Linked DNA regions of Homo sapiens. The protein of the gene in region 1 purifies or fractionates together with the protein of each later gene. This does not show direct contact. Each region holds a gene or a part of one and is shown in the gene's direction. Other genes may lie near its edges.

What was found.
Region 2: the proteins of GOLGA7 (region 1) and UTP18 purify together in Homo sapiens (affinity purification with mass spectrometry; one large-scale study listed by BioGRID and IntAct). This does not show direct contact.
Region 3: the proteins of GOLGA7 (region 1) and MACROH2A1 purify together in Homo sapiens (affinity purification with mass spectrometry; one large-scale study listed by BioGRID and IntAct). This does not show direct contact.
Region 4: the proteins of GOLGA7 (region 1) and NAA50 purify together in Homo sapiens (affinity purification with mass spectrometry; one large-scale study listed by BioGRID and IntAct). This does not show direct contact.
Region 5: the proteins of GOLGA7 (region 1) and ZDHHC18 purify together in Homo sapiens (co-purification; one study listed by BioGRID). This does not show direct contact.
Region 6: the proteins of GOLGA7 (region 1) and BDH2 purify together in Homo sapiens (affinity purification with mass spectrometry; one large-scale study listed by BioGRID and IntAct). This does not show direct contact.
Region 7: the proteins of GOLGA7 (region 1) and RAB5A purify together in Homo sapiens (affinity purification with mass spectrometry; one large-scale study listed by BioGRID and IntAct). This does not show direct contact.

Annotation. Positions count from the first base shown.
Region 1 is NC_000008.11:41,500,582-41,504,081, forward strand, and holds part of GOLGA7 (golgin subfamily A member 7), read left to right. Parts: intron 1-3,500. UniProt on the Homo sapiens protein: May be involved in protein transport from Golgi to cell surface. The ZDHHC9-GOLGA7 complex is a palmitoyltransferase specific for HRAS and NRAS.
Region 2 is NC_000017.11:51,294,990-51,298,433, forward strand, and holds the end of UTP18 (U3 small nucleolar RNA-associated protein 18 homolog), read left to right. Parts: intron 1-1,975; coding exon 1,976-2,000; 3' UTR 2,001-2,014; intron 2,015-2,792; 3' UTR 2,793-2,944; downstream 2,945-3,444. UniProt on the Homo sapiens protein: Part of the small subunit (SSU) processome, first precursor of the small eukaryotic ribosomal subunit.
Region 3 is NC_000005.10:135,371,732-135,375,231, reverse strand, and holds part of MACROH2A1 (core histone macro-H2A.1), read left to right. Parts: intron 1-3,500. UniProt on the Homo sapiens protein: Variant histone H2A which replaces conventional H2A in a subset of nucleosomes where it represses transcription. Nucleosomes wrap and compact DNA into chromatin, limiting DNA accessibility to the cellular machineries which require DNA as a template.
Region 4 is NC_000003.12:113,725,750-113,729,249, reverse strand, and holds part of NAA50 (N-alpha-acetyltransferase 50), read left to right. Parts: intron 1-3,500. UniProt on the Homo sapiens protein: N-alpha-acetyltransferase that acetylates the N-terminus of proteins that retain their initiating methionine. Has a broad substrate specificity: able to acetylate the initiator methionine of most peptides, except for those with a proline in second position.
Region 5 is NC_000001.11:26,854,188-26,857,687, forward strand, and holds the end of ZDHHC18 (palmitoyltransferase ZDHHC18), read left to right. Parts: 3' UTR 1-3,417; downstream 3,418-3,500. UniProt on the Homo sapiens protein: Palmitoyltransferase that catalyzes the addition of palmitate onto various protein substrates, such as CGAS, HRAS and LCK. Acts as a negative regulator of the cGAS-STING pathway be mediating palmitoylation and inactivation of CGAS.
Region 6 is NC_000004.12:103,079,964-103,082,834, reverse strand, and holds part of BDH2 (dehydrogenase/reductase SDR family member 6), read left to right. Parts: intron 1-661; coding exon 662-754; intron 755-2,871. UniProt on the Homo sapiens protein: NAD(H)-dependent dehydrogenase/reductase with a preference for cyclic substrates. Catalyzes stereoselective conversion of 4-oxo-L-proline to cis-4-hydroxy-L-proline, likely a detoxification mechanism for ketoprolines.
Region 7 is NC_000003.12:19,971,097-19,974,596, forward strand, and holds part of RAB5A (ras-related protein Rab-5A), read left to right. Parts: intron 1-3,500. UniProt on the Homo sapiens protein: The small GTPases Rab are key regulators of intracellular membrane trafficking, from the formation of transport vesicles to their fusion with membranes.

The DNA of each region.
Region 1 (3,500 bases):
ATGAGATTTTCATTTTATTTATTTTTGTAATAGAGACAGGGTCTCACTGTGTTGTCCACGCTGGTCTCGAACTCCTGGGCTCAAGCGATCCTCTCACCTCAGCCTCTCAGAGTATTGGGATTAAAGGCCTGAGCCGCTGCGCCCAGCAAGATTTTCATTTTAAAGAGATCTCTTTGCTTTGTGGAAAAAAGGCATAAGAATAGAAGTAGGGAAACTAGTCAGGAAGCTCCACAGAAGTCCAGGCAAGAGTGAGATAGCCTGGATTAGGAAGGGAGCAGGGGAGGTGCAAAGAGGTGACCAGCTCCAAGGGATATGTTGATAGTTGGTATGAATGTAGGAGGGGAGGGTAAAGCTGAATTCACATAGGTAGAAACTTTATCATCTGGAATGACTATTTACAGAAGTCCATAATATTGCTAATTTAAGGTAGAAGCACATCTCTTGAGTATTTTATTCATGCTTAGTGAAGTATTAAAAGGCTTGAGTTGTTATTACATTTGTTGATAAAATTTTAATTGTATTTGTCAAAGTGTATTTGCTGAAATAGAAGTACTGATGTCATTTGTAAAAAGAAATTGGTAATTGGGTGCTAGTCAGTTTATACTAATTATGAGATCTTGGACAAATTAATCTCTCTGAATTCTCTCAACTATAAAATGTATATTAGAATTAATAATTTTCCTTACATGTGGTTAGTGCTTAATAAACAGTGTTTTCTTGAGGTCGATTTTTTTTTTTTTTAATTGAGACAGAGTCTTGCTCTGTCACCCGGGCTGGAATGCAGTGGTGCGATCCCGGCTCACTGCAACCTCCACCTCCTGGGTTCAAGTGATTCTTGTGCCAGTAGAGATGAAGTTTCACCATATTGACCAGGCTGGTCTCAAACTCCTGGCCTCAAGTAATCCACCTGCATTGGCCTCCCAAAGTTCTAGGATTACAGGTGTGAGTCACTGCACCCAGCACTCAGCCTTTATTACTTACTTTTTTAAAAAAAACTAGAGATGGGGTCTCACTATGTTGGCTAGGCTGGTCTTGCACTCCTGGCCTCAAGCGATCCTCCCGTCTCGGCCTCCCAAAGTGCTAGGGCTACAGGCATGAGCCACTGTGCCCAGCCAAGATAGATTTTAAATGAAGTTACCTATGTAAGTTTTAATCAGATATTTGTGAACTCACATATGATTTTTTATTTTCAAGTATAAGTAATCTTTTAGCCAGCCGCTAGTTTATTTGGGTGCTGAAAACACTTAGCAGCTCTCAATTAAAAACCTTCCAATTATTAAATCTTGGAAGATGGTCCTAAATACCAGAAATACAATGGAAATTGGTTGATCCCAGTATATGTTTTAGCTTGGATTTGTAGACATTGTGTAAGGTCCTATTTTATAGGTCTAAGCAAGGCCCCTTTCTTTTTATAGAGCAAATGTTACAAAGCAAATAAAGACCAAATAAAATTAATCCAGAAACCAAATTTAAGGCATGGCCACATTTTAAAAATAGGTGATATTTTGTAGAAACTGAACATGGATAATTAGATTGTGCAGAATTAATAACTGGAATGATGATAGTTAAGATATGATATACCTATACTTTTAATAGAAGTGTGCATTTGTGTTTTGATAAAATGATTAAAATGTAAGCACAGCTGCCCTCTCCCTTTCCCAGTTTGTCTCTGAGGAATTTTTGTGCTATTATTTTCTACTTACAAAAGGATGAGGTTGAGTCATTTAGTCTCTATTGTTTTAAACACCGAAATTCCTAGTCTACAAACAGTAAGCCAAATATAACAGTGCTTATACTTTGTCATGTGTGTTAAATTTTTTGAAATTGTAAATAGGCCTTTTAAAACTCACTAGAACAATCATGCATTTTTCCCTATAATGTGCTATTTATTGATTTAAAATGAAGATAAAGACTTCAGTGTTATTTCTCTATTGTTGCTACCCATGATAATTAGGGGACAAATGGGCTCGTGGAAGGTTCCCCTTTCAGTATCTCTCTGCCTTGTTCATGAACTAGAAAACATCCCTTCTGCCTATGTGCTGTAATCTCTAGAAGGAACACAGGAGAGAACTTGGGTATGTTCTGAAAACAGTAAGATGTGGTGTTACTTAGCCTCAATCAGGCCATTTTTCTTGAAGGTCTGGAAGGCTTTCTCCAGTTGAATATCCTCAGGGAGGACAGTAGTTTTTCCAAGGTTTGATTGTGTTTCACTTTGTAAATATTATACAAATTGAAGTTTTGTTGAGGATTTGAAAGTAGCAGATAACTTTGTTAAATATTATGGTTTGCTTTGACATTGATTTACCAAAAATAATAAAGTGTGAATAAAATGTCAACATATGATTTCTTGGGGGTGAGAATGGCGCTTTGTCCTTTCTGAGATTGTGGTATGAGTTTACACATATTAATGCTCTTCTGCTATTAAAGAGACTTTAAGAGTTTTATCGTTTGTTTTAATTTTTATTTTATTTTTATTTTGAGACTAAGTTTTAAAGCATCTTGTTAAGGACAGTGTTGCCTTCACCACAATAGTATAAGAATATTTAGAGCTTATACAAAAAGGAAAACTAATTGTTTTCTTTCTGAACTGATACCCAAGTGCATATCAATGTTACTAAAGTTTATAAAAAAAAAAAAAGTGTCTGTTCATGTCCTTCGCCCACTTTTTGATGGGGTTGTTTGTTTTTTTCTTGTAAATTTGTTTGAGTTCATTGTAGATTCTGGATATTAGCCCTTTGTCAGATGAGTAGGTTGCGAAAATTTTCTCCCATGTTGTAGGTTGCCTGTTCACTCTGATGGTAGTTTCTTTTGCTGTGCAGAAGCTCTTTAGTTTAATTAGATCCCATTTGTCAATTTTGGCTTTTGTTGCCATTGCTTTTGGTGTTTTGGACATGAAGTCCTTGCCCACGCCTATGTCCTGAATGGTAATGCCTAGGTTTTCTTCTAGGGTTTTTATGGTTTTAGGTTTAACGTTTAAATCTTTAATCCATCTTGAATTGATTTTTGTATAAGGTGTAAGGAAGGGATCCAGTTTCAGCTTTCTACATATGGCTAGCCAGTTTTCCCAGCACCATTTATTAAATAGGGAATCCTTTCCCCATTGCTTGTTTTTCTCAGGTTTGTCAAAGATCAGATAGTTGTAGATATGCGGCATTATTTCTGAGGGCTCTGTTCTGTTCCATTGATCTATATCTCTGTTTTGGTACCAGTACCATGCTGTTTTGGTTACTGTAGCCTTGTAGTATAGTTTGAAGTCAGGTAGTGTGATGCCTCCAGCTTTGTTCTTTTGGCTTAGGATTGACTTGGCATATTCTCACTCATAGGTGGGAATTGAACAATGAGATCACATGGACACAGGAAGGGGAATATCACACTCTGGGGACTGTGGTGGGGTCGGGGGAGCGGGGAGGGATAGCATTGGGAGATATACCTAATGCTAGATGACACATTAGTGGGTGCAGCGCACCAGCATGGCACATGTATACATATGTAACTAACCT
Region 2 (3,444 bases), on another chromosome or scaffold:
ATAAATGTCTTCTTTTGAGAAGTGTCTGTTCATATCCTTCGCCCACTTTTTGATGGGGTTGTTTTTTTCTTGTAAATTTGTTTGAGTTCATTGTAGATTGTGGATATTAGCCCTTTGTCAGATGAGTAGGTTGCGACAATTTTCTCCCATTTTGTAGGTTGCCTGTTTACTCTGATGGTAGTTTCTTTTGCTGTGCAGAAACTCTTTAGTTTAATTAGATCCCATTTGTCAATTTTGGCTTTTGTTGCCATTGCTTTTGGTGTTTTAGACATGAAGTCCTTGCCCATGCCTATGTCCTGAATGGTATTGCCTAGGTTTTCTTCTAGGGTTTTTATGGTTTTAGGTCTAACATGTAAGTCTTTAATCCATCTTGAATTAATTTTTGTATAAGGTGTAAGGAAGGGACCCAGTTTCAGCTTTCTACATATGGCTAGCCAGTTTTCCCAGCACCATTTATTAAATAGGCAATCCTTTCCCCATTTTTTGTTTTTGTCAGGTTTGTCAAAGATCAGATGGTTGTAGATATGCAGCATTATTTCTGAGGCCTCTGTTCTGTTCCATTGGTCTATATCTCTGTTTTGGTACCAGTACCCTGCTGTTTTGGTTACTGTAGCCTTGTAGTATAGTTTGAAGTCAGGTAGCATGATGCCTCCAGCTTTGTTCTTTTGGCTTAGGATTGACTTGGCTATGCGGGCTCTTTTTTGGTTCCATATGAACTTTAAAGTAGTTTTTTCCAATTCTGTGAAGAAAGTCATTGGTAGCTTGATGGGGATGGCATTGAATCTATAAATAACCTTGGGCAGTACTTTGGGTAATTTTCTACCATAAAATGTCACTAGCAGGAAACTTCACCTGGGGAATATATATATTTTTTGGAAAGCACTATTTTGAGAATGTCAAATTGAGAAAAAGCCACTTTAATAATATTTCCACTTTCTTCGTGCCTTATGTTTAGATTAGCTTTTGCTGATTTAATAATTCAGTTTACTCCACTAGATTTAATTGATTTCTTTTTAAAAGGTGTTTCTTTCCCTGTAGCTGTAAGCTGTAAATAAGGGTGTTAACCACAAAGATAACCAAAACTTATATGCGCTGTCCAGGTTCTTTTCTGTACCCAACATACTTGGCTATAAAACAGGAACAAACAAAACCTAATTGCATCATTGCTAGAAGATATAGGTGACAAGGTGGATCTTTAGGGAGAACTAAAGAGCTTTCAGTAGAAAACTTGTGATGTAAATCACAGCCCTCTTGCCTTGCTCCTTGTGTTGGTAGTGAATGCTACATAGAACCCTGTGTTTATGTTTGTATGCTTTAGGGAATTCCTGCTTTCAAAACGGACTAAAATCTGGAGTGAAGAAAAGGAGGAATGTAAATTGGTTTTGAGGAAATAGTTGTGAAAGGAGAATATACCAGACAATAATGTGGTTTACAGTTCTACTTACTTTGAAAGGAAAACAGGTTATACCAGGATAATTTCATCAGTCTCATTTCAGATCAGATTTGGAGTGGTTCTGTTTCAGTTTGTATTTTATAAAAGGATGCAGATTCTTATTGCACTTAGAATTTTCTTCCAAATCCTTTGGTATTTTTATAAGTGAAATTTTTTTTTCTCTAAGACCCAAAGGCCATTAGATTTTCCACCAGAGCATTGCTCTTTAGAATGACACTGTTTCTAGCTATACCAGTGACTGGAATTGACTGATGACATTTTTATTGTTTATGTCTGATCAGGTATTTCATAGACCCCCCATGTGAAACTTTGGAGTAAGCCTACTCATGTTACCTAAAATCTGAGGCGTTCAGATCCTCCAGAATGTCAGATTGAGGAGTCTGAACCTAACTGCCTGGTGTGAATGATTGTGATTACATATTTTTCCCACTAAAATCTTCCTAAGTGCCCTTCTGTGATCTAATTGAAAACACTGTGGGTAATTACAAAGTTGTTCAGATGACTTATTTTTTACTTTTCCAGGTTGCACCATTACTCAGACTTCTAAAGAGACTATTTGAAGTAAGAAAACCCTTTTCTTACAAATTCTGCAGGTTTTAAGATACACCCATTGCTGTCAGTTGGTGGAAGCAGCACATTAGCTGAGCTTTGTTTCTCTACCCCTAAGTTACTGCATCTTTATTTAGAGGGGTGGGTTGGAAGTAGATCAGGAACTGTCTAGCTGAAGTTGGACCCTCCTTTCTTATCCCAAATCACAGCAATCTGGCTCGGTTCTTCTGAGGTCTGATCTCTAATGTTGCATTCAATAATTCTCATCAAAATTGTAATTACTGAACATGTTTAATCCACAAAAGACTTAATAACACAGAGAGATGGGTCTTCAGATATAGCTATAGCTTGTATGAGCTTGAATCCTCTTATTATATATATGTTTCTTGAGAGATTAGCAGCTTGCTCTGTTTCACAGAGCTAGATAATGGGGCTGGCCATTAGTTCTGCTGCCCAATATTTAAAACCATAGAACATCCTTCCCTTCTCATGGTGTCCTTTCAGGCCTGAGATGTGGTGGTTCTGAGATTGAGCTTTGCAATTGGCCTCTTCATCACAGTTGACTGTTTGGTCTCCTCAGAGATTAATGAATGTTGAGGGACTTTGAGAATGCAGATAGATTTAATTAGGACAAAGGATTTTTAAAGGTACAGGCATTTTGGGCAAAGCTTTAGCAAGGAGGGGAAAGCAGTTTAGCTCTCCTGTCTCAAAAGATTACATTGCCAGTACGTGTCTGTTGATGACCAGCAGCTATAAATCAGGTATGTAATTTCTTTTGTTCTTTCCTCAGGTCCAGTTGAGTCACAAGAGAAGCCTGTCTTGATATATCATCTCAGAAACTTTCCTGAATATGTGATAATATATGGAAAATGATTTATAGATCCAGCTGTGCTTAAGAGCCAGTAATGTCTTAATAAACATGTGGCAGCTTTTGTTTGAAAATAAGTGTATCTGGTTCTTCCCTCCACCCCCAACACACACACACACAAACTTGGATGCATTTAAGACTAAACATGAGAAATTGGAAACACCTGTCTGTAGCCAAAAATAATATAAGCAGATTTTCTCATACTTCTCATACAGCTAACCCTGATGCATAGATCTCTTCCTGAATAGATCCCCCTTCCTGAATCGATCCTCCATGCTTTAGGGGATCAGCTAACAGGTAGTCTCTTGAGCTATGGAGGTCAGTCGGCTTGATATGAGAGCAGTGAAATCTCACGTAGTGAAGTTTGAACTTCCAAGTCTTCCAGGAAAGATGATTTTGGAAATGAAAAGGCTTTTCTGGCCTTATTACTTCAAATCTTTGTCATTGTCATTTGAAGAGGAGCCATAGTAAACCTGGTAGCCTTGTCCTACAGATTATTAGCCACTGCCCTTCCTGGAAATGTTCATTATGCCAACTTAAATGTTTAATTTGTATTTCAAGGTTGGCAGCTGGC
Region 3 (3,500 bases), on another chromosome or scaffold:
TCATCTAGGCCACTACAGATGATGGTGCCAGCCACTCACTAGTTGCCAGAGACTGGCCCTGGCCAGGAGTGAGAACCAGAGGCTTATGTGTTTTGAAAAACAAAAATCTTAGAAGAGTTAATGAGCTGGCCAGTTTGCTCACCATTCAACTTGTTCCCTTTGCACCATTTATAATTGGGAACTTTACCACACTTACAGTCCTCTTCAGAGCAGACCCTAAGCGCCTTGGGCCCCAAATCAGTCTAGTATTGGTCATTGGTAACAAAACTTAGACTGTCACCGACTGAGAATACTTGGCTTGATGGGGTGGAGAACCTGGTAAGGGGTTCTGTTTCTTCTCCTAATTGTTCTTTTCCGTTTCTTCCTGTGGTTTCTTATGGATTCCATTTATTTTGGTTACAGCCTCCAGGCTGTGGCTCCTGAAAATTTCCTTCAAGAGAGAATCCAAGGGCTGAGCTCTGGAAACTCTGGAGAAAAGGATTTTTGTGTCCATAGATCTGGTGTTTTCCTGGTTATCTTTCTCAGAATCGCTTTTCTTTTAGACCAGCCACAGACAAAACAGAGACTCACAAAACCTTCCAAAACATGAAATGAATTGAGTGCAAGAACCCACCCTCCCCCTTGTAGGAAGGCATCGGCTCCATTCACTTTGAGGCAGAGGCTTAAGTTGGCTCTGTTCTAGCCTAGGAGAAAGCCCTCCTTGCTGGTGGGAATGTGAGGGCCATCCCAGTGTGCATGGGGGGCAGGCAGGCATTGCTGTACAGCCCTGAGCCTGGGGCCTCCATGACTTTGCCCTCCATATTATTGCAAAGCAGAGGATCACTTACAGGGAAGAAAACTACATCAGGACATCTCCTTTGGTGACGTGTGCCCTGTCCCAATTCCTCAGCAGTCAGTCACCCTCTCCGCTCCCCCCTGAATAGGAACATGCCCTGGAGAGCAGATGGGAACCGTTCCATCTTGTTGAGTTGCTGGCATTTTGCACCTCTGCTGTCTCTGCAGCAGGCAACTCTTTCTTAGCCAGGAAAGCCCTTTACGATGGCTTTTTCTAAACCTGGACTAAGGATGAGAGGGTGAGTATTACTGATGGTTGGCAGGGGATGAGTGTGTATTCTGGGTTACTGCTTTTGTTAAGTCGGGCACCCTCCATTTTCCCTGGCCATGGTGAAATGCCCCGGCCCTCTGCTGCTGCAGCACAGGAGAGGGGTGGGACACTGAATATACTTCTCATAAAAGGTGTGTTTCTGAGGTGCTCTGTCTTGTGTGTCCCTTAACGATGGGGTTACTATGGTAACTATCCATCTGAAAAAAATGCAAGAGTAAACAGAAGATAAAGCTCTTGCTTAACTAGCTGGAAGGTGGATCTGTGCCCCTCTTTGTTATCCCTACTTGACACAGCTCCCTCCTCCCTACCCACAGGGCTGAGGGCCCACCCTATGGTGGTAGGAGTATGGAGAGGCAGTAATTTTGGCTTGTGCAGATAAAAGATGAGCTGGGGTTTTGCAAAAAGGAAGAGTCTTGGATTCTGGGGCTCCTTGGTAAAGAAGGCAACAGAATGACATCCCTGCCCAGCTCTTTCTAAGGAGCTGAGATGCTCCTCCTTCTGCCCCTCCTTATCCACCTTGCTACTCACTGTCACTTACAGGTTGGTCCAGTGTGGCATCCCTGATTCCCAGTTGAATAGCAAAACATAAGCATGGTCCTTCAAGTTTCTCTAATGGAGAAACTGAGGCTACTGAACTTTTCAGTCACAAAGTAAGAGCATAAAGGGGTAAAGCTTGCGAAGCCAGGGATAATGTCCTCTAGCTCCTGGAGAATCCATTTTCAGGTTTCTCAACCCGATGTGCTTACTTCTGGGCTACTCTGTTGCTTTCTGTTCTTTACATACTACCTGCCCTCACCCAAGTCAGGGGCCCAACCACACTCTTCAGGTCTTTTTATCCATCATTCTCATTTTTCCTGCACAAAAAAAAAGTGAAGGCAGCACTGCAGAAAATATAGACCACATCCCTCCCCTCCTCCCCGACCACCAACGGCCACTGAGCCTTCTCTCAGGGAGGGCCTTCCTCCAACGTTTTGGGCAGGAAGAGGAAACAGGCCACCTCCACTTTCCTGAGAAACTGTACCTTCAAACGATTTTCTTGCCAAAGGGTTGGGCTTAGGACTTAGCAAAACAGGTCACCACTGTGGGCATTCTCCTTCTGCCTCCCTTCCTCTCTGTTAATGAGGGGGCAGATAAAGCATTCTTGGCACATTATGGTCAGAAGATTGTAATCCATCAGCCTCCTCCTGTATATTCTGGCTCTGCAGATACCGATGGCCCAAAACTTCGTTGTGGCCTCCAAAAGGGGAAGGTTGTGGAAGGGAGGGGAAGCCAGCAAAGTGGGCTACAGCTCAGTGGTGCTTGATATGCCTCTCAGGCCTTCCTGCCGTGAGGATTCTGCCCAGCACCCATCGTGGCTGACTCTCCTTCATGTTCCATTGCTCCCAGGCTCTGTGTTCTTGTTGGGCTTAGACTCTTGGTTTGGCATCCTCTTGGGCCGTGGGCAGGACAGTGGCATTACGGATGTGCTCTCCCGCCCATGAACACAGGAGAATGAAGGCCAAGCTGGGCTGGCCAGGCAGGCGCTTCTGCATTCACAGTACCCAGGGCCCAAGGTCACATAGGCATCACAGGCACCTTTTTGGCTTGGCCAAGGTGGGCCCATCACTGCTGGGCATTGGGACACTACCACGATCAATGATAGGGAAGCTTCAGTGAAAATGCTGGGTGGCCATCTCCCTCCTCCACTGGTAAACTAAACTGTGCTGACACTGGTACAGGGAAGGGAATAGCGTTGTGGAGACTGATGGGTGAAAGTGGGAAATGTGAGCCCCTCCACCAGATTCCATGTAAGCACTGGCTATCTTGCCTTCCACCCTGCCTTAGTTTTGTGGCTCTCACATGTATAAAGCCCAGGTAAGGGACCCTGTGGCATTCTTTATCACTCTCTGTATCACTGGCATGTGTAGCCCTGCAGGCCTGGGAACACTGAGAAGACAGGGGCCTCCTGGTGCCTTGGGTCCCTCCTGCCAAGCACAGAGTTGTGTGTCATCAGTATGGTGATTACTGAGCAAAGGAATTCCTGCCTTGGATTTAGGGGGAAACCTGCTATTTCAAGTGTGTCTGATCTCCTCCCGCCCCTGCCCCCAAAGCTAATATGAGAGTTTCCTTGAGTAGCCAAGCAATTTTTCAGCTTTACACACATACAGCAGGTTATTTGCATTGGGTGGAGCTGTTAGTACCTCTTAAAAATGCATGCCCTGTGTCATACCGTAAATTTTTAACACACGATTTTTATGCAGCTAGAATTTTCTTCCTAGTTATTTCATAATGATTCTGAGTGCTGGTGTTGCTGGAGAAATCTAGTGTTTACAACATAACTAAATATTAGAAATTCTTTAGTACTGGGAGGAGGTCAGATTTGAGTTGGGCCCAGAAGGGTAGCCTAGAATGACAT
Region 4 (3,500 bases), on another chromosome or scaffold:
GGGAGGCCAGGGTGGGCGAGCCTATCACTTGAGGCCATAATTTCAAGACCAGCCTGGCCAACATGGTGAAACCCCATCTCTACTAAAAATACAAAAATTAGTTAGGAGTGGTGGCACATGCTTGTAATGACAGCTGTTTAGGAGGCTGAGGCAGGAGGATTGCTTGAACCCAGGATGCGGAGGTTGCAATAAGCTGAGATTGCACCGCTACACTCCAGCCTGAGCAACAGAGGGAGACTCCGTCTCAAAAAAAAAAAAAAAGAAAAGGAAAAAAGTGTATCAAGAGTAAGCCTTTTTGAGATACCATGTGAACAAAGACTTGGAGTTAACATATACTGCAGCCAAGGATGGAGAGGCCATCAATTGACAGGAAAAACTGCAAGCAAAGCAGATTTTGGAACAAAGATTTGAAATTGTTTGCAGTATGTTCACTTTGAAGTGTCTGCTGGAGATTGCTTGGATCTAGGAATGTAGAGTTCAGGAGTGAACTATAGGCTAGAGACAGAAATTTGGAAATTGGCAGCATTAAAGCCACACAACTACAAGATTGAATGAGATCACCAAGAGAATAATTATAGAGAAGATAACCAAATGCGTCCATATACGAGGCCGTCATAAAATTGGTTCTTTTTCAGCTTCCGCATTTATACACAAGCATACTTGATGTTTTAGCCATATCAAACTGACTGATTTTCGGACTACATCACTGCTGTTTTGTTCATGTTTTATTAGACTGCATCTCTTGCCCTTCCACAGGATAAGCTAGTCGTTCTTCAAAATGTTTCCCATTGTCACCTTCATTCTAGTATTATTTTTGTACTATATGTACATACACTGTTAGTAGCACATTGTATATACCTGTCTTTCCTACCAGATGTAAACACCTTTGCATTCCAGATGCATAACACATAGATACTCAAATATTTATTGAAATATAATTGATTTATGCTTTAGGCAACTCTATTATGTTCATAAGAACTTTAGAAAAATTTAGATTGACAGAATTTTTTAAATCTCCATTAGGTTAGTTTTTTAATAGAGAATTTGGACTTTTAACTTAATTTTTTATAGGTTATTCTAACTAAAACCTTTTTGGTTGTTTACATTCAAGTAATGTTATTTTCTTGACATGTCTACATATCCCTTATGCTTATGCCTTTTTTTTTTTTTAACTCCGTGTTCCTTGCTAACTTATATTTACAAGTTGATTATAGTACTTTGATATATTTAGAAAATCCATGTCTTAAAATAATTTGGAGCTAAGTGATCAGGATTACAGAAGTATTCCATTTCAGTCAGACATATCATGTTAATGAGAGTTAAACTATATTTGAAGCTCAGTTTTGCTGACAAGGTTACATTAAGTGAACATTTTGAAATTTTTCTAGCATATTTGTTTCTTGCAAAAATCAAATTAATTTCTCAAAAACAGCTTAATTTTTCCAACAGCTACCAAACAATACTTAAATCTCAAATTTGTTTAAAGCGTGTATATACATATATATAACGCGCATAGAAAAATATTGGAAGACTATCAGCAAACTTATTTCTGGCCATATTATTGCAGGATATTTTCCCTTTCTACGTCATTTCTATGGTGTGCTTTAAAAAAAAAAAAGGCATGTATTTTTTTAATTAGTTAGGGGAAGATTAAGCTGCCTATTTCCTAATGGTTCAATATTGTTTTCTCTATTTAGGCTTTATCTGGCCACCCTAATGGAAACTTTTTTTAGTAGTTAACTTTTATTAGACTCATTGTAGCACAGTGCACTATAACCACTTTTTCTTCTTGTATGAAGTCAAGAAATACCTGGTATTATTCTTTGAAAACTGTAAGTATGCTTGAAGCCTAGTTACTACCTACAAATGATTCCTAAAGTTTTAAAAACCTCAAGTTCTTTCATTTATACTTTAGAAGCTTGACTTTGTAGGTTCTTAAGTTACTATTATTGTTGATACTTCAACTTCATAATGTAATTTTAAATCACTTTTTAAATACTAAGACTTTTTTTTAAATGAGATGCTCTAAATTAATACAAACTGTATATAAAAAAATTACTACACCCAACTTGTGGCACTATGGTAAGTTAAACAGGAGACAGTGTAGGTAAGATGTGATCCCTGTCAGCTACTGCATTTTTAAAGGATCCTATATTTTGGCCAGGCACAGTGGCTCACGCCTGTAGGCCCAGCACTTTGGTAGGCCAAGGTGGGCGGATCACTTGAGCTCAGGAACTGTAGACCAGCCTGGGCAACATGGTGAAACCCTGTCTCTACAAAAAATTCAAAAATCAGCTGGGCGTGGTGGCATGTGCCTTCCTCAGCTACTCGTTAGGCTGAGGTGGGAAGATCACTTGAGCCTGAGAAGCGGAGGCTGCTGTGACCTGTAATTATGCCTGGGCAACAGAGCAACCCTGTCTCAAAAAAAGAAAAATAAAGGATTCTATAGTTTACAGGATAACAGTATCCACAGATTTTTCTTTCTTTCTTTCTTTTTTTTTTTTTTGAGGCGGAGTCTTGCTCTCTCGCCCAGGCTGGAGTACAGTGGTGCGATCTTGGCTCACTGCAACCTCTGCCTCCTGGGTTCCAGTGATTCTTCTGCCTCAGCCTCCCGGGTAGCTGTGACTACAGGCACGTGCCACCACACCGGGCTAATTTTTGTATTTTTAGTAGAGACAGAGTTTCACCATATTGGCCAGGCTGGTCTCAAACTCTTGACCTTATGATCTGCCCACCTTGGCCTCCCAATTTTTTTTTTTTTTTATGTGAATGGTAGATAGTGGGGAAAGTGAGCCCAGTAGATTTTAGTCAGAAAAGTGTTATGAAGAGGGGGAGTTCTGTGAATGAGATGTAATCTACTTAAAGAAAACATGAATTTCATACAGGGAATTCATTATAGTTGTCAAATACTTGGGATGAGAAAAGACTATACTTAAGTGACTAGAAGTTGGAAGAGACTATAACAAGAAAATGTCTATTTTTTTATTTTTACTTTTTTAAACTTCCTATGGTGCTGAGGGGTTTTTTAAATATATAAATCTCTTACCCTTTTACTAACATGTTTGTTTATTTAATCTGTGTGGTTGCTAAGAAACTATGTTCAGATTTTAGGAAGACATACAAGACATGAAAAGATCATTGGTTGCAACAAATAATACAGATTAGTGGTATAAAAAATAATCAAGGCAGGAAGGATAAAGTTCCAAATGAGCTAAGCCTTTCAAAACTGCTAAGTATGACAGAAACGATGCTTTATGCTGTCTTTTGTGTTCTTCATACAGACTACTTAAATAGGGGGTAAAAGTCTCTTGTTTTTGCCTCTAACTCCTTACCAAGTAGAATGTTCTCCAAACTGGGCATTATAGAGTAATACATCTTAGAGAACTTTGTACTATAAGATAAAATATTACATCATATTCCTCTCCAGATAAATCAAATTTAGAAATTTCTTTTTTTATCTGTAATTATTGCTGTTTTTTGTTTTGTTTTTGAGACAGTCT
Region 5 (3,500 bases), on another chromosome or scaffold:
GGAACTGCTTGGGCCTTGCTGAGCCAGGGTCCTCAGGGTGAAGCAGGACTGAGGAGTGGCCAGCTCTGGATAGCTGGCTGTGGAGAGGAAGCCTCCATGGGCTGCTTTGGTCTGTGGGCTCCTTCATTCCCTTGGTGATAATTTCCCTTTATTCTGTGGGATTTTTGGTGGGGTTTTCCCCCCTTTTTTATGGAGTTGGCCAATAGGATTGAGTTGGGGCTCCAGTAGAGAAGGCAGGGTTGGTGGTGGGTGGGGGCAGCCTGTATCAGACAAAGGTAAATCAGCCAGCCAGGCACCCACAGCCTCAGCTCCTGTGCAGTTCCTGGGCAGCACAGTGGAAGTGGGAGCCTGGTCCTTCCCCTGCCCATGGAGAGCTCTTTAAGGGATCCCAGCCTGCCCCTCCACTTCTCTCCCAAGCCAGGTCCCGGCATGGGTGGGTTATGCTCATGCTGGCAATACTTGAAACGGGTTTATTAATGCTGGGTATTTTGCACAATTTTATAGACCTCTTTTCTACATAGTCTTTTTTAAATGGAAGGAGAAAATGTCAGCCACATTACTGTCTGTGTAGTGCCAGGTGAAGGGTTATCAGAAGGCTGGTTGGTTTTAATAAGTTTATTCCAAGAGACCTTCTGGCTGGAATGAGTGAGAGTGTGTGTGCATGTGTGTGTGTGTTCATGTGTGCCCTGTATGAATGTGGCTGGCTCCCATATCCCCTGGGCTGCCCCCTGCCCCATCCCCTTTGAGTGTCAGAAGCACTCTGAGCCAAGGGGACAGGGGGCACGTGCACTGGTCACGAGAAAACCCTGGGCTCCCACTGGGGCTCAGCCCAGCCTCCTATCTTTCCTTCTTCTATGGACTTCAGACAGCCAGTGTCTGGGGACTCTGCCACTCTACCCCCAGCCCTACCCACCAGCCCCCAGGTGAGGCTTCCAGCTGGGACCTGCCCAGACAGGCTGAGCCTGGGCGTGGTGGGTGGGGTGATGGCTCTGGGGAGCGGCTGCCATCCTACAAGCCACACCCCCTCCTCTGAGCTCTGAATATGGGACCCAGTGCCAGGAGCTGGAAGACAAGGTGTTTCTGCCAAACGGGGACCTCCATCCAGAGAAAAGGAAGAAGGTGCAGGGTGGGCCAAGAGGCAAGTGAAGGTTGGCCTGAGTCTGGGCCGGAAACTCAGAGGATGTTTCTCCTCTGCTGGGAGCTGTAGTTTCTTATCAAAATAGATATTGTTCCACCATCCCCCTCCTTGGCCCTTCAAGTGGGCTGAAGCCCTTGGAAAGTGACATAGGAAGTCCCCAGATCTTGCCCTTCTCACTCCAGAGGCTAGTGGTCACAGACAGCTGGGAATGGCAGCCACAGAGGGTCCCCTCTGGGAGAAACAGCTTCACCCCAGCCTCAGGGCCCTGGGCCATCACTGCAGTGGCCCTGGGAGGTGAGGAAGAAGCTGGCTAGAGGAGGGGGCTCCCACCTACCTTTTATTTAAGCCAGTATTCTTTGTTCCTGCTTGTAATAAAACTTCAGTTTATAAGAGTTGCTTTGCTTTGGTTTGGTTTTTGTTTGCTTTTCCTTTGCTGAGGCCCCAACTGGGAGCCCTCTGTTCTTTCAGACAAATTTGGTTCTTTCCTGGGGAGACTGTGAGAAGGCAGGCAGCCCAGTGATCTGGCTACATTTTCCCTCACCTGGCTGGAGCTCTGTCCGCTGGAGGAAGAGCAGAGAGGGCTGCGGCTGAGCCCCCATGGGCACGTGAAAAGAGGCCATCCTGTCCCCTCTTTGTCCCCTCCACCTTCCCCTGCCTCAGGGGCTTGGAGACCCCCAAATTCTTCTTCCCTACTGCCTTTCCACTCCGATCCCCAATGAGTGCCCAGCTAAGAAAATGTTTGAGACAGTAGATTCCAGTTTGAGAGCCGGAGCTTCCCTGGCTACCACCTCCAACCTGGGCACCAGGGCCCAGCCAGACAACTCATAACACTGGCCCACCTCTCTGGTATCTCCCTCAGGAGGACACCTGTCAGGATTTTGCCATCTCCTGCACAGCCTGAGGGGAGCTAACAGGCCTCTTTGCAGAGGGTTAGCTGGTAAGACCGTTTCTTCCCTGTCGGCCAGCACTGCCCGCTCCCCTCACACACCATCTCATCCTCATCGCATGCCTCGCCAACCCCATGGAGCCCGTCCATCTGTCTGGTGTGTGGTGCGGTGTGTGTGCTGGTGGTGGTAGGGTCTCCAGGGACTCCCCGCTAAGCAGAAGGATCGGGATATAGGGCAAGGCTAAAAGCCCAGCCCCATTGTGGACTGAGGAAGTAGCTTCTCGCAGAGCAGCTCTCCAGCTGGAAGAGGAGGTGGAGGGTGAGGCTGGGGAGAGGATGGCGAACCTGCCCTGAGGTGCTTGGGTCTGTGCTGGTGGGGTCCTGGTATGCAGGGGCCACCGGTCACTAACACTCTTATGTCCTGGCTTTCTGTCCCCGCTGAGCTTTCTCTCACCCGCCCGTTTTCTCTCCTGCTTCATTGCCTGCTGCCTAAGCCTTGGCCCTTCTCTCGGGCAGAGGCAGGTGCTGTGGCAGCACCTCTCCCCACCACCGGGGCCCCTGCAGGCCGCCTCCCTCCTCCCAGGCCTGCTAACCCTCTCTCTTCTCCTTCTTTGCTGTCCTGCCGGGGATCTCCAGTGTGTGCGGGGGCTTAAGGACCTCCTGAGGACCGCTGCTCTCTGCCTCTCCAGGAATGGCCTGGGGGGAGCCAGGCACCCGGCACCTCCACCTGCCTAACCTGTGGCCCATCTGCCACCATCTGTGCCTACAGGGTCTGCCCCCCAGCCTGCCCGGCCTGTGTGCTCTCTAGGACCCCCATAGGGGGCAGGGGCTGGCCTCTTTGCCCCATTCCCGCTCCATGCCGGCCAGAGTGTAGAAAGCCATAACGCAGCCATCAGCACAATAATGTGACTCTACGCTGATATGCTCCCTCTCTCCTCCACTGACTTCCCCTTCCCGGATTTGTGAGGTGTCAAGACTAGGAATCTGGCCTTAGAGCCTGCCCCTCCACCCCCTCAGATCAGGCATAGCCATAGTCAAGCCCAGCAGGTTTCCTCAGGAGCTGTCTGGGGTGTTGATGGTGGATGACGCTGCTGAACAAGTTTGGTGACTGTTCTAAGCACAACTGGCTTGATACTGTTCCCACGGCCTGTCCACCTCCCACCCCCAACCCTCCACCAGAGTAGGTAGGATGTAGGGAGGGTGCGTGCCTCCTTTGCTCTAGGCACTGAGGGACCAAGCTAGCCGTGCACAGCCCCATACACTTCAGGGGACTAAAGGAAAGAGCTGAGCCAAGGAAAATCAGCTGAGCCCAGGGCTGGGGGCTGCTTGTCTGCTATCCTGTACCTTTTTTTTTTTTAACCAAAATAAAGATTCCCCTCTTCTTGCCATACCATTGGCTGTCTGGTGGCGCCTTTACTTTGGGGCCCAGGGATGGGACCTGCAGTGGGCGTGTGGAACATATGGCTCCCCCTCGCT
Region 6 (2,871 bases), on another chromosome or scaffold:
TTAATAAATGCCCTCTTCCATACCTATAGCAGACAAATTCATAGAGACAGAAAGTGAAATGGTAGTTGCCAGGGGCTTGGAAGGAGGGAAAAGAGTAGTTAATGCTTAATGAGTAGAGAGGTTCCATTTTGTAAGATGAAAAGAGTTCTGCTTGGGAAGCTGAGGCTGGGGGATCGCTTGAGCCCAGGAGTTTGAGGTACAACAGTGAGCTATGATCACAACACTGCACTCCAGCCTGGGCAACAGAGCAAGACTCTGTCTCTAAGAAAAAATAATAATAATAAAAATAAGAGTTCTGGAGATGGACAGTGGTGATGGTGGCACAACAGTGTGAATGTACCTAACACTATTGAACTGTACACTTAAAATGGTTAAGATAGTAAATTTTATATTCTGTATACTTTACCACAACTTTTGAAGATGAAAAAATAATGCCCTCATCCTTTAACATTAGCTTTCTGATGTGTCACAATATCTGTGGGTTTTAGTATAACACAAACAATTTGAGTAACTTTGGCAAAAGAATCACCATAACCCTAGTTGATTATTCATCAAGGCAGCAAGCCAGTGGATTCTCTTGCCTTTAACTCCTTGAACAAGATGCAGGTGAGCACATACAGCTGCTTCCATCACTAATGTCTGGTATGGTCTCTGGTCACAGGCACGGAATGATTTCCTGAAGAGACAAAAGACGGGAAGATTCGCAACTGCAGAAGAAATAGCCATGCTCTGCGTGTATTTGGCTTCTGATGAAGTAAGCACTATTCTTCCCAAGGAGTTCATTACCCTCAATCACATTTGGCCACAATTTGCTCATCAAAATAATATCATTTTAGAGAGTTTGTGGCATATATGTGCTAAGATGCTACATTTATAAGATAGGGATAAGTTCTCATTTAATTTGCTCAAAGAAAGACCACTTCGATCTGAGCCACTAATTCTTCCTTATTCAGCTTTACATAAAATCTTGTAGCAAACAAAATGGAGGACTAAAAAAGTTAAAGTGCTCAATTTTCTGAGAGACAGTTCCTTTCAAAAATTATAATTGGGGAAACCCTGATTAAATGCAAGTCAAAAAATTGAACCTCCAGGATTATAAGAGCTCTAAGTGAAATGGGGAGAGGATTAAGCAGATTTGTGTTCAGTGGACACAGAATTCGCATGTGGTGTTTTAGTTTTACTTGTGACTTGTTTGGGAGAATTCCACTGGCTCTTTTTTCTCTATTAATTCTTACTTGTGGCCGGGCATGGTGGCTCATGCCTGTAATCCCAGCACTTTGGGAGGTCGAGGCAGGCGGATCACCTGAGTTCAGGAGTTTGAGACCAGCCTGACCAACATGGTGAAACCTCGTCTCTACTAAAAACAGAAAATAGCTGAGCGTGGTGGCGGGCGCCTGTAGTCCCAGCTACTCGGGAGGCTGAGGCAGGAGAATCGCTTGAACCAGGGAGGCGGAGGTTGCAGTGAGCCGGGATTGCGCCACTGCACTCCAGCCTGGGTGACAGAGTGAGACTCCGTCTCAAAATAAATAAATATTTTTAAAAATTCTTACTTGTTCATCATCGTGTATGGAAATTCCTAATTTAATCTCTTCCACTTTGCATCTGTTTAACAGTTTTTTCCTTAATAACTATTGTTTACTTTTAAATGGCTTAAGATGAAAGCAAAAATGATGCTTATAAGGTATAGAGCACAAGAAGGTCCTCCTCTGTTTTATGTCTCTGAATACTACAGGAACAAGGAACTGTAATGTGTGAGAAGAGGGAAGGAAAGGGGACTAGGCGGGAGCGAGGAGGGAACAACTGATAGCTCCTCTTCCCAGTAACTTGGTGCACACCAGATAGTTGGTGAATGTGACAAATACAGGGATTGAAATGTTTCCGTGACAGCGCAGTTTCTTCTCAGAACTTCTCCCAACTATTAACAACAATTGTTAATAGCTGGGGAAATTAATAGACAAATGTTTAATGAAGAAGCACATGAGCCTTTGTGATTTCTCTGAATCCGTATCTTCAGAATAGCTCATTTGATTTGGGTACTGCTGATAAGCTAAATTACCCTTAGTTAGCCAGAGCTTAGGTTACAAGATATTTGGAAGTGTTGTGGCTTGAAATGTGCTACAAAAGTACCTTTGGCTTTTTAGAGGTTTCCAGAGGAGTTCATATGTGTAACAGAGCTTGTCTTTTAAAAGAACTTGGGGGAGTTGGAGGTATTTCTTTGGTGAAGTGACTAATAACTCCCTAGTTCACCTACTGTATATTATCAGCTTTTATCTATTGAACTCTTAAAATTTCTCTATTCATTATGATATCCTTACTTCCTCTTCCATTGTTTCAGGCTTCAGATGAATTTAGACTGTTTGAGTCTTTATTATCCATTTTAAGTTAAAAGATTTTTAAACTTCTACCAAAAAGATCACTTCAGCCTTATTTAGAAAATGAAAAATTTATGGGAATAAACCAGTAATTATTTTTTAAATTCCTTAGTTTTATAAAGATTTGGATATCTGAAACTAATATAGAATATTTTTATAGCTTAATGGATTATAGTTATTATCATTCATGTAAATTTTTAAAACACATTTAGTGTGCTTCAGCTCCTACAATTATCCACTTATAATTGATCAACTAAATATATGCTGTCTTTTTTAAAAAACTGGTCATTAATATGACCATTTTATGACTGATACACTTATGTTCAAAAGTTTATTAGTGGCATAAAACTTAGCTAGTTTTGAATAGTTCTGAGTTTCAAAATGAAAATGTGCTTTTAGCCTATATCCTAATTTGGGGAATGGCTATACATCACTGTTCCTTAATTTGGGGATTCTGAGACCAAATACCTAACAGTGACAGGTGCTTAGACACCAGCCA
Region 7 (3,500 bases), on another chromosome or scaffold:
TGAGGCAGGAGAATCACTCGAACCCAGGAAGCGGAGGTTTCAGTGAGCCGAGATCGCGCCATTGCACTCCAGCCTGGGCAACAAGAGCTAAACTCCATCTCAAAAAAAAAAAAAAAAAACACTATAGTAGTATTTTAAAACTTTAGGACTTTGAGAAATCATGAACGTCTTAGGGTGTATTATGTATATCAAGAGTTTATTATAGTGGGCTACACTATTCCAGTAATATTTCTGTTCATTTAGTACTGTAGCACTTTTCATTTTTTAAAGTATATTATAAAACTGATTTTCCCTGGCCTCTAATGTTGGTCTTTTCTCCCCCAAAATTATGCTTTATCATACCACATGAACAGTAGTACGGTGGTGGTGGTGGTGGTGGTGGTTGTTGTTTTGAGACAGAGTTACACTCTTGTTGCCCAGGCTGGAGAGCAATGGCACAATCTCAGCTCACTGCAACCTCTGCCTCCCGAGTTCAAGTGATTCTCCTGCCTCAGCCTTCCGAGTAGCTGGGGTTACAGGCATGCACCACCATGCCTGGCTAATTGTTTTTGTATTTTTAGTAGAGACGAGGTTTCGCCATACCGGTCAGGCTGGTCTCAAACTCCTGACCTCAGGTGATCCACCTGCCTCGGCCTCCCAAAGTGCTGGGATTACAGGTGGAAGCCACCGCACCTGGCCCAGTACAGTGTTATCAGGTGAAAAATATCTTGATGTTGTTTTTGAGGTTGTGTTACAACTTGAGTAGATACCTTGTGAAATATCTATTTTTTCACATTTGGGAGCTGCCTCTCTCTACATTCAAATGTTATCTGAAGTAGCCTCTAAATGGTTCCATGTATCTTTTTGAACTTCCTTCTTTTAGTAGACATTTTTGAACATCTGTATGAACAAGGATTTATATTAAATGTTGGTACAGAGAGGAGCTACTACAAGTTGAGCATCCCTAATCTGAAGTCTGAAATGCTCCCAAATTCTTCGAGCATCAATATGATGTCACAAGTGAACAATTTCCACACTTAACACCTTTGCTTTCTGATGAGTCAGTGTACATAAACTTGGTTTAATGCACAAAATTATTTTAGCTTCAGGCTATGTGTACAAGCTTTATGTGAAACAAACGAATTTCATGTTTTGACTTGGATCCCTTCCCAAAAATATCTCATTATGCAAATATTACAAAATCTTTAAAAATCCAAAACATTCCTGGTTCCAAGCATTTCAGATAAGGGATACTTAACCTGTGGTCATTGCTCAAGTAACTCCCAATCAAGGAGAAGAAAAAGATATAAACCAATGATTATAAAAGGTGTGAAACGTTATTACACAGAGAACTCTGGGAGCACAGATGTAGGAGATATTAACTAGGGTGGAATGAAGGAAGGTTTCTAAGCAGAGTTGAGGAATGAATTGATTATCTTCTTTGTTAATCTGAATGGGATCCATTCCTGTTCAGCATGATTTCCCTTGGTTTTGTTCCTAGATTTAGGAATGATGCCCTGTTTTGCCATAAGGAAGAATCTCGTGTGTTTATTAGGAATGGATATTGACTCAAATGCCTTTTTGTAATTTGTTTAAATAAAATGGATTTTTCTTCATTAGCCTGTTAATGTAATAGTTTTGTATTTCTGAAAGAATGTACTTGGTAATGGGCATTTGTTTGTCTTAATGTATTTGTTGCAATTTCTTTGTATTTGGCATTTTTGTACATGTATGGTGTACATGTATGGTGGCCTCTTGTGTCTTTAACTGGCTTGAGAATTGGATCATATTTTCTTTAAGGCAACATCTCTAATACAGTTGGCCCTCTGAATCTGTGAGTTCCACATTTATAAATGCAACCAACTGCAAGTTGAAAATATTAAGGGGGAAAAAATTAACTTAGCTCCAAAAAGCAAAAATTAAATTTGCCACACACTTAATACTATGTTGAATCTATGTGGATGACGTGAGGTGCAGGCATTGTATTAGATATTATAAGTAATCTAGAGATGCTTTAAAGTATACAGGAGGATGTGCTTAGGTTATATACACATACTTTGCAATTTTATATCGGGGACTTGAGCATCCTCAGATTTTGTTATCCATTGGGGATTCTAGAACCAGTCCTTCATGATATATGGGGAGGTCCTGGAAACAGTCCTCCACAGATACTGAGGGATGACTATAGTTATTTCCCTGAGCCTGAAGTTTACTTATGGACGTATAAGTGAATGTTTTTAGTACTAGTAGACTTTGTGATCATAGTATGTCTGAAAAATGAAACAGTCTGTGCACATTTTAATTCCTTTTTTTTTTTTTGCAAGTCTGCATCAAACTATACTTGAAAAAAGGCTTATGTATTGTGACTTATTTTCCTCTTTTCCTTTTTGGTAAGAGTACTGTCTTAGGGACTTAATTTTAGTTTAAAATTTTAGTTTAAAAACATTTTTTGATCCTACAGGAGAACCTCTCGTGACCTTCAAAAAGTGACATAGTGCTGTCTGGATATCCTTTACCATAAATACAATATTTTAGAAAATGGACAATTCTGCTAATTGTTGGTTAAAAAAAAGTTTGAACTGGATTAGAATATATTTACAATGTGATTAATGAGAATTCATAAAACTATTAATTAGAATCTAGGTCCAAATGAAGATGTTTACAGTATTGTTTGCAAAATTCAGAAGATTTTAGTTGTTGATACTAAAGCCAGCAACCAGTTAACCTAAAAGAGCGTGAAAAATAAATGTTGTGTCTAACGTAAAAGAGATATATCTCATTAGACTTTGTTTCTTTAGCACATTTGATACTGGTTAGTACATCTCTATCAACGTCACTAGATAAACGGCTGTAATTTAGAGAAATATATCATAATTCTTTTGCATAATATGACAGTTTTAGAAAATGGTAATTCAAGTGCATACCAATTTGGAAATAGGGCTTGAATATCACACCTTGAGCTAAATGTAGAAGGAAGGGAGGAGCATACCAATTTACAGTGAATGATAGAGCAGCAGCAGAGGGCGGTCTAATGGCTGTGTGTAGGTCTTTTAATTTTAACAATATTGTATCATTTTATAATGCTACTTTTTTTTTTTTTTTGAGACAGAGTCTCTGTTGCCAGGATGGAGTGCAGTGGTGCGATCTCAGCTCACTGCAACCTCTGCCTCATGGGTTCAAACGACTCTCCTGCCTCAGCCTCCCGAGTAACCGGAACCACAGGCAAGCGCCACCATGTCGAGCTAATTTTTGTATTTTTAGTAGAGACAGGGTTTCACCATGTTGGCCAGGATGGTCTTGATCTCCTGACCTCGTGATTTGCCTTCCTCAGCCTCCCAGAGTGCTGGGATTACAGGCATGAGCCACCACGCCTGGCCTATAATGCTACTTTCCTAGTGTTAAAATTAGAATCAGGGAAAGTACAGATCCAAAAAATTCTTATGGCAGGGAATGAAAGGTAGGAGCAAATATTGAATCAACTGAACAAATTAAATCTAGGTTAAGGTAATAATGACTACCAC